2 linked regions of the Homo sapiens genome follow. The protein of the gene in region 1 purifies or fractionates together with the protein of each later gene. This does not show direct contact. Each region holds a gene or a part of one and is shown on either strand. Other genes may lie near its edges.

Region 1 (3,500 bases):
ACATTTTTAAAAAGGGAGGGACAGAGACAGGAAGTAAAAACCAAACAAAACAAAAACACCATCACAACAAAAATTATAATTAAAGAAGTCTTAATAATTCACATTTGAGGAATAGCCTGGATTTCCCATTTAGCTTAATTTAAAGGCTTCCATCCTGAGGCCAGGCGCGGTGGCTCAAGCCTGTAATCCCAGCACTTTGGGAGGCCGAGGCAGGCGGATCACAAGGTCAGGAGATCAAGACCATCCTGGCTAACACGGTAAAACCCCGTCTCTACTAAAAATACAAAAAAAGTAGCCGGGCATGGTGGCAGGTGCCTATAGTCCCAGCTACTTGGGAGGCTGAGGCAGGAGAATGGTGTGAACCCGGGAGGCGGAGCTTGCAGTGAGCCGAGATGGCGCCACTGCACTCCAGCCTGGGCGACAGAGCAAGACTCCATCTCAAAAAATAAATAAATAAATAAATAAATAAATAAAATAAATAAATAAATAAATAAATAAAGGCTTCCATCCTTAGGTTAGAAGACCACCTAATCTTCTTTGGGATCTAAAGCTTATATTCCTTGGTCCCTCTACAGAAGGGAAAAGGCTGAGGAAAGTGTTGGAAAACTATGTATTTTTCCCTTTTTTTGGACTATATGACCCAGTTCAAAAAGTAAATTAAAAATTGTTAAATAAAAACTCTGTTTCCCCTTTCTGACCCCACACCAGAACACTGAAGAAGGTTGGACAGACAAAATATACAGGCATAAGCCACCGTTATTTATTTTCTATTTGTCCAAGTCAGTCACCAACAAGAAGGAAGGCTGACTTTAACCCTTTAGTCAGTCATTCAAAAATACTCATTAAGCACTTACTGTGTACCACGGACTATGCTGGAGGCTGGGGACAAACAGTGAGAAAGGCCACAAGTTCTCCACTATCACAGAGATTCAAATACACTGGGGATAAGGAACATTAAATAACCACACCTGGTAACAGCTAATCAGGCAAAGTTCCAAGTGCCATGACGTATACCAAAGGGTATCTAATTTGGCCTGGACAGTTGGGAAAGCTGCTTTGAATACAGTAGATAAGACAGACACTCCCCTTTCAACTCCTGCATCTACTCTCAACCTGTAGTGTAGGGCCACTTCTTATTTCTACAAGTTCAGAGACAAGGCCAAGGATGAAAGTGAAGTTGCTGGGGGCCAAAGCCCAAATGGGACAAAAGCAGCTGCCACAGGATGAAGGAGCCCCTGCTGGATTACAAGAGTTGGAAGTATCAGCGGAGCTGCAGCTAGCAACCCTGGCCTGGGCCAGCCCCACGTCGATTAATAACATAAACTTTGGTTCATTTTGGCTGCAAAGATCTGGCTAACCAGACCCATAAACTCGTGTAAATTTAGTAAAACACATCTCCCAGCAAAGCATGATGGCTTATTCTGTTTTGCTGGTATAAGGAAATAACCTATTGCCAAGACATGGCAAGTAAAGGATGCACTTCACTCCCATAATGAGCTTTTTCCAGTCTAGGGTCTCAATTCTCTTTAACCTGCTACTTATGAACTGAAAACTCAGGTTTCCAAGTCAATGTACTTTCTGAAAATACTGTTAAAAGAAACAGAATTTTAGGCCGGGCGTGGTGGCTCACGCCTGTAATCCCAGCACTTTGGGAGGCCAAGGTGGGCAGATCACAAGGTCAGGAGATCGAGACCAGCCTGGCCAACATGGTGAAACCCCATCTCTACTAAAAACACAAAAATTAGCCGGGAGTGGTGGCAGGCTCCTGTAATCCCAGCTACTCGGGAGGCTGAGGCAGGAGAATTGCTTGACCCCGGAGGCGGAGCTTGCAGCAAGCCAAGATCATGCCACTGCACTCCAGCCTGAGCAACAGAGCGAGACTCTATCTTAAAAAAAAAAAAAAAAGAATTTTAAATTCAATTAGAACAGCGAGAATGGTTTAAATGCAAGTTTTAAAGTTGCTTTTGGCCCTTTATTAGTTGGTAAACTGGCAGGGGACCTTCATTATGCTAAATATGTATTATCACAAGGGCCGAACTGTACAATGCATAAGAAAAGGCTAAGTTCATACTAACACTAACACTTCCCCTTGTTTCTCTCTCACATCTGAGCCAGCTCTCCTATGTAAACAGTCATGTCTTGAGTAATGGTTAAAATAAAAATACAGAGGGAGAATACTCACAGTTGTTCTAAAGGGACTGTAAGTTATTAAAGAGATAAAGACACAAAACAAAATGCAACTACCCTCAAGTCATTCTGATACAACTTTCTAAACACTTTAATAAAGAAAGGTCATGGATGTGGTGTAGAATATTACGAGTGTGGAAACATGCTCCATATACTGGTAGGTAAAAAAAAAAAAACCAAAAAAAACTATGTCAACTATGTTCCTGTGTTTATGATAAAACATACACATGTTACAGCTGGGTGCAGTGGCTCACGCCTGTAATCCCAGCACTGCGGGAGGCCGAGGTGGGTGGATCACTTGAGGTCAGGAGTTCAAGACCAGCCCGACCAACATGGTGAAACCCCCATCTCTACTAAAATTACAAAAATTAGCCAGCATGGTGGTGTGCGCTTGTAATCCCAGGTACTCGGGAGGCTGAAGCACAAGAATTGCTTGAACCCAGGAGGCAGGGACTGCAGTGGGCTGAGATCATGCCACTGCACTCCAGCCTGGCTGGAAGAACGAGACTCTGTCTCAAAAAAAAAAAAAAAACTGGCCAGGTATGGTGGCTCATGCTTGTAATCCTAGCACTTTGGGAGGCCAAGGTGGGTGGATTGCCTGAGCTCAGGGGTTCGAGACCAGCCTGGGCAACAAGGTGAAACCCCGTCTCTACTAAAATACAAAAAATTGGCCAGGCGTAGTGGCTTACGCCTGTAATCCCAGCACTTTGGGAGGCCGAGGCGGGTATATCACGAGGTCAGGAGATAGAGGCCATCCTGGCGAACATGGTGAAACCCCGTCTGTACTAAAAATACAAAAATTAGCTGGGCGTGGTGGCGGGTGCCTGTAGTCCCAGCTACTTGGGAGGCTGAGGGAGAGAACAGCTTGAACTCGGGAGGCGGAGGTTGCAGTGAGCTGAGATGGCGCCACTGCACTCCAGCCTGGGTGACAGTGCGAGACTCTGTCTCAAAAAATATAAATAAATAAATAAAATACAAAAAATTAGCCAGGCATATTGGCGTGTGCCTGTAGTCCCAGCTACTCAGGAGGCTGAGGTAGGAGAATCGCTTGAACCTGGGAGGCGGAGTCTGCAGTGAGCCAAGATTGCGCCACTGCACTCCAGCCTGGGCGACAGAGCGAGACTCTGTCTCAAAAAAAAAAAAAAAACCAAAAATAACACATATACATGTTACATGTGTATCCATGTATCATATCCTCACAAAGGTCTTTTAAAGAAAACAGCTGACTCTGGAAGGCTATTCCAACAATTCTCATGAGATGCATTGTATTTTCCTTCAGTGGTACTTAGAACCCAAACCCAAGAAATTCAACT
Region 2 (3,500 bases), on another chromosome or scaffold:
ATGTGGTTTTAATAGATCCAAGGCACTCATATTTTAAAACCAAATGATAGAATAAACTTGTTCTGTTTTTCTGTTAATTTGTCAATTCAAGGCCTTTTTTCTTCCTTTCCAATTGATACATTTAACCCTTTAGAGACAGACATTTAGCTCATAGAGATTTTTTTTCAGTGCTATCTATTCTGTCTATAGAGGGTTAATCCAAAGACTGTTTTTCCTCCTCACGTTATAAAATAAAACTGTACATGATATGTATTACAGAATGTATGCAGCATGGTCTTTTTCTCTCTCTCTCTCTTTTTCTCTCAGAACGGAACTGGAAACAGCAACATGTTTGCTCAGCAACGAATTAGGGACAATTTAAAATAGCCATAACATACCATACATGCTGTCTAAGTTTAAAAAAAAACATACACAACATGTAAATTATTGCACAAGAGAAAGGCTCAAAGTTTGCGTAAAATGCAATAGTATTGCCCCATACAGATCATGCATTCAAACGGTGAGAACATAAAGGAAAAAAAAAAAAAAGGAAAAAGAAAAAAGAAAAAGAAAAAGAAAAAAAACAGGTGTGCTGGTGACAAGCACTCTCATATTCTTAGCTTCGTTACTTCTGTTTGTTTGTTTGTTTGTTTAAATCACATGGGACTAGAAAAAAATCCTACAGGGAGTGGGGCTGGAGGGCGATGGGGAAGGGGAGTGGTGAAAAAGGGGGTGTCAGGTGGGAGTGAGGGAGGGGTATTAATATACCTCTATTCAGTTTTTATATCATTATTCAACACTCGATCACTGTGCCATTTTTTCATGTGTTTCTCCAGGGTACTGTACACGCTAAAAGGCATCTTACAAATTTCACATTTGTAAACGTCCTTCCCCACCTGGCCATGCGTTTTCATGTGCCTGGTGAGCTTGCTACTCTGGGCACAGGCATAGTTGCACAGCTCGCATTTATAAGGCCTTTCGCCCGTGTGGCTTCTCCTGTGGACAGTGAGATTGCTACAGTTCTTGAAGACTTTCCCACAGTACTCACAAGTGTCGCTGCGTCTGCCCTCTTTTGAGCTGGGCCTGCCCGGGCCCGGACCACTAATATGGGGCGTGCTCCCTCCACTTCCCGTGCCGCTGCGCCCCGAGATCCCTCCGTCCAGCTCCCCGGGCGGTGTGGAGAAGCGCAAACTCCCGTTCTCCGAGGAGTGCTCCGACGAGGAGGCAAAAGGCGATTGTCTGGAGTCTCCGAAGCTAAGGAAGGGATCTTTGAGCTGCCTGGAGGCCGCGTAGCCGGCGAGCCACTGCGAGTACACGTTCTCCGTGTTGGGCATCGCGGCCGGGGGCAGGTCGAACTCCTTCTCGAGCTTGATGCGCTTAGAGAAGGGGCTCAGCGAGCTGGGGCTGCCCAGCAGCAGCTTTTTGGACAGGCCCCCCGAGGCCGACTCGCCCGGGGAGCAGCCGCGGCCATTAACAGTGCCATCGTCTATGCGGTCCGACTCGCCGGCCACCGAGTCTTCGTCGCAAGTGTCCCTGTGGCCCTCGGCCTCGGCCAGGTGGCCGCGCTTATGCTTCTCGCCCAGGACCTGGTGGAAGGCCTCGCTGAAGTGCTGCATGGAGCTGAGCACCATGCCCTGCATGACGTCGGGCAGGGCGCGGCTCTCGTCGCCCACGCCCACGACCGCGCCCCGCGAGCTGTTCTCGTGGTGGCGCGCCGCCTCCAGGCTCAGCCCGAAGCCGTAGTCCACCCTCTCGCTCTCCGTCAGCTCCTCCTCCTCCTCTTCCTCCTCTTCTTCCTCTTCCTCGTCGTCCTCCTCTTCCTCCTCGTCCCCGTTCTCCGGGATCAGGTTGGGGTCGTTCTCGCTCTTGAACTTGGCCACCACGGACTTGAGCGCGCTGCTGGCGCTGCCCACCAAGTCGCTGGTGCCGGGTTCCGGGGAGCTGGCGGTGGAGAGACCGTCGTCGGACTTGACCGTCATGGGGGACGATTTGTGCATGTGCGTCTTCATGTGGCGCTTCAGCTTGCTGGCCTGGGTGCACGCGTGGTCGCACAGGTTGCACTTGTAGGGCTTCTCGCCCGTGTGGCTGCGCCGGTGCACCACCAGGTTGCTCTGAAATTTGAACGTCTTGCCGCAGAACTCGCATGACTTGGACTTGACCGGGGGCTGGGAGGGAGGAGGGGCGGATTGCAGAGGAGGGAGGGGGGGCGTCGCCAGGAAGGGCGGCTTGCTACCTGGCTGGAATGGTTGCAGTAACCTTTGCATAGGGCTGGGCCGGCCTGGGGACAGCGGTGGGCTAGACGTGTTCCCTGCCAGCTCTCTAAGTCTCCTAGAGAAATCCATGGCGGGAGGCTCCATAGCCATTGGATTCAACCGCAGCACCCTGTCAAAGGCACTCGGGTGATGGGTGGCCAGGGCCATCTCTTCCGCCCCCAGGCGCTCTATGCGGTGGGGGTCCAAGTGATGTCTCGGTGGTGGACTAAACAGGGGGGGAGTGGGTGGAAAGCGCCCTTCTGCCAGGCCGGAAGCCTCTCTCGATACTGATCCTGGTATTCTTAGCAGGTTAAAGGGGTTATTGTCTGCAATATGAATCCCATGGAGAGGTGGCTGGGAAGGACATTCTGCACCTAGTCCTGAAGGGATACCAACCCGCGGGGTCAGGGGACTTCCGTGTTCGCTTTCTAAGTAGATTCTTAATCCATGAGTGTTCTGTGCGTGTTGCAAGAGAAACCATGCACTGGTGAATGGCTGTTTGCAAGTTGTACATGTGTAGCTGCTGGGCTCATCTTTACCTGCAAAATAATACAACACCAACATCAATGTTTAATCACTGAGGCGGGCATCAGCAATTGCTTATTTATGTTCCACCTCCAGCCTTCCCTGCCCCCACCCCTCAACCCCAAGGCCTAAGCCCTCACTGACCTACCCCCTGTGCCTGGCACGTCTGAGCATGGGTACCCAGTAAATATTGGTCCAATTGATCTTCCTGCCATTAAACTCAGTTCTAGAAATTTTATATCCAATCCCCAAAGCAGAAAAATCCTGACCAGTTCTGGCTTGAGGATGAAGGTCCCTACATTCTAGGCACCTCAACAAATGTCTTCTAAACTTTCCAGTTCCATCAGCTGTAGTTTGGGGCAAGCCATCTCATCTCCATGTGCCTCTGTTTCCTCCTTGTTAAGTGAGAAACTTGGACAAGGTGACCCAAGGAAACTTTTTGGCTTCCTAAATCCCAGCTTTCTATTCCCCCCTGGGTGACAGGTGAACTTTCTAAATAGGCAAACATTTCATAGAGGTATCAAAAAAGGGGAAGAAGGTCAACTCACTACAATGTTCTATGGCCCTAAAGATGCTTTCAGCATTAGCCTGAAACACACTAATTGTTGATATTGTTAAAATGAGAGGGTACTCATAAAATACTTCCGTGGAAAAAAGACTAGCAACATTCTCACACCCCAGACTGTGGGAGGATCAGTGAGTCCCAATTTTGGTTCCACAACACCCCATGGGGACGTCCATTTT

The links. Proteins that work in one complex are often made in the same cells at the same time.
Region 2: the proteins of SUDS3 (region 1) and BCL11A purify together in Homo sapiens (affinity purification with mass spectrometry, with the first as the bait; one large-scale study listed by BioGRID). This does not show direct contact.

Annotation. Positions count from the first base shown.
Region 1 is NC_000012.12:118,407,555-118,411,054, reverse strand, and holds part of SUDS3 (sin3 histone deacetylase corepressor complex component SDS3), read right to left. Parts: intron 1-3,500.
Region 2 is NC_000002.12:60,459,655-60,463,154, forward strand, and holds part of BCL11A (BCL11 transcription factor A), read right to left. Parts: intron 2,771-3,500; coding exon 750-2,770; 3' UTR 1-749. UniProt on the Homo sapiens protein: Transcription factor. Associated with the BAF SWI/SNF chromatin remodeling complex. Binds to the 5'-TGACCA-3' sequence motif in regulatory regions of target genes, including a distal promoter of the HBG1 hemoglobin subunit gamma-1 gene.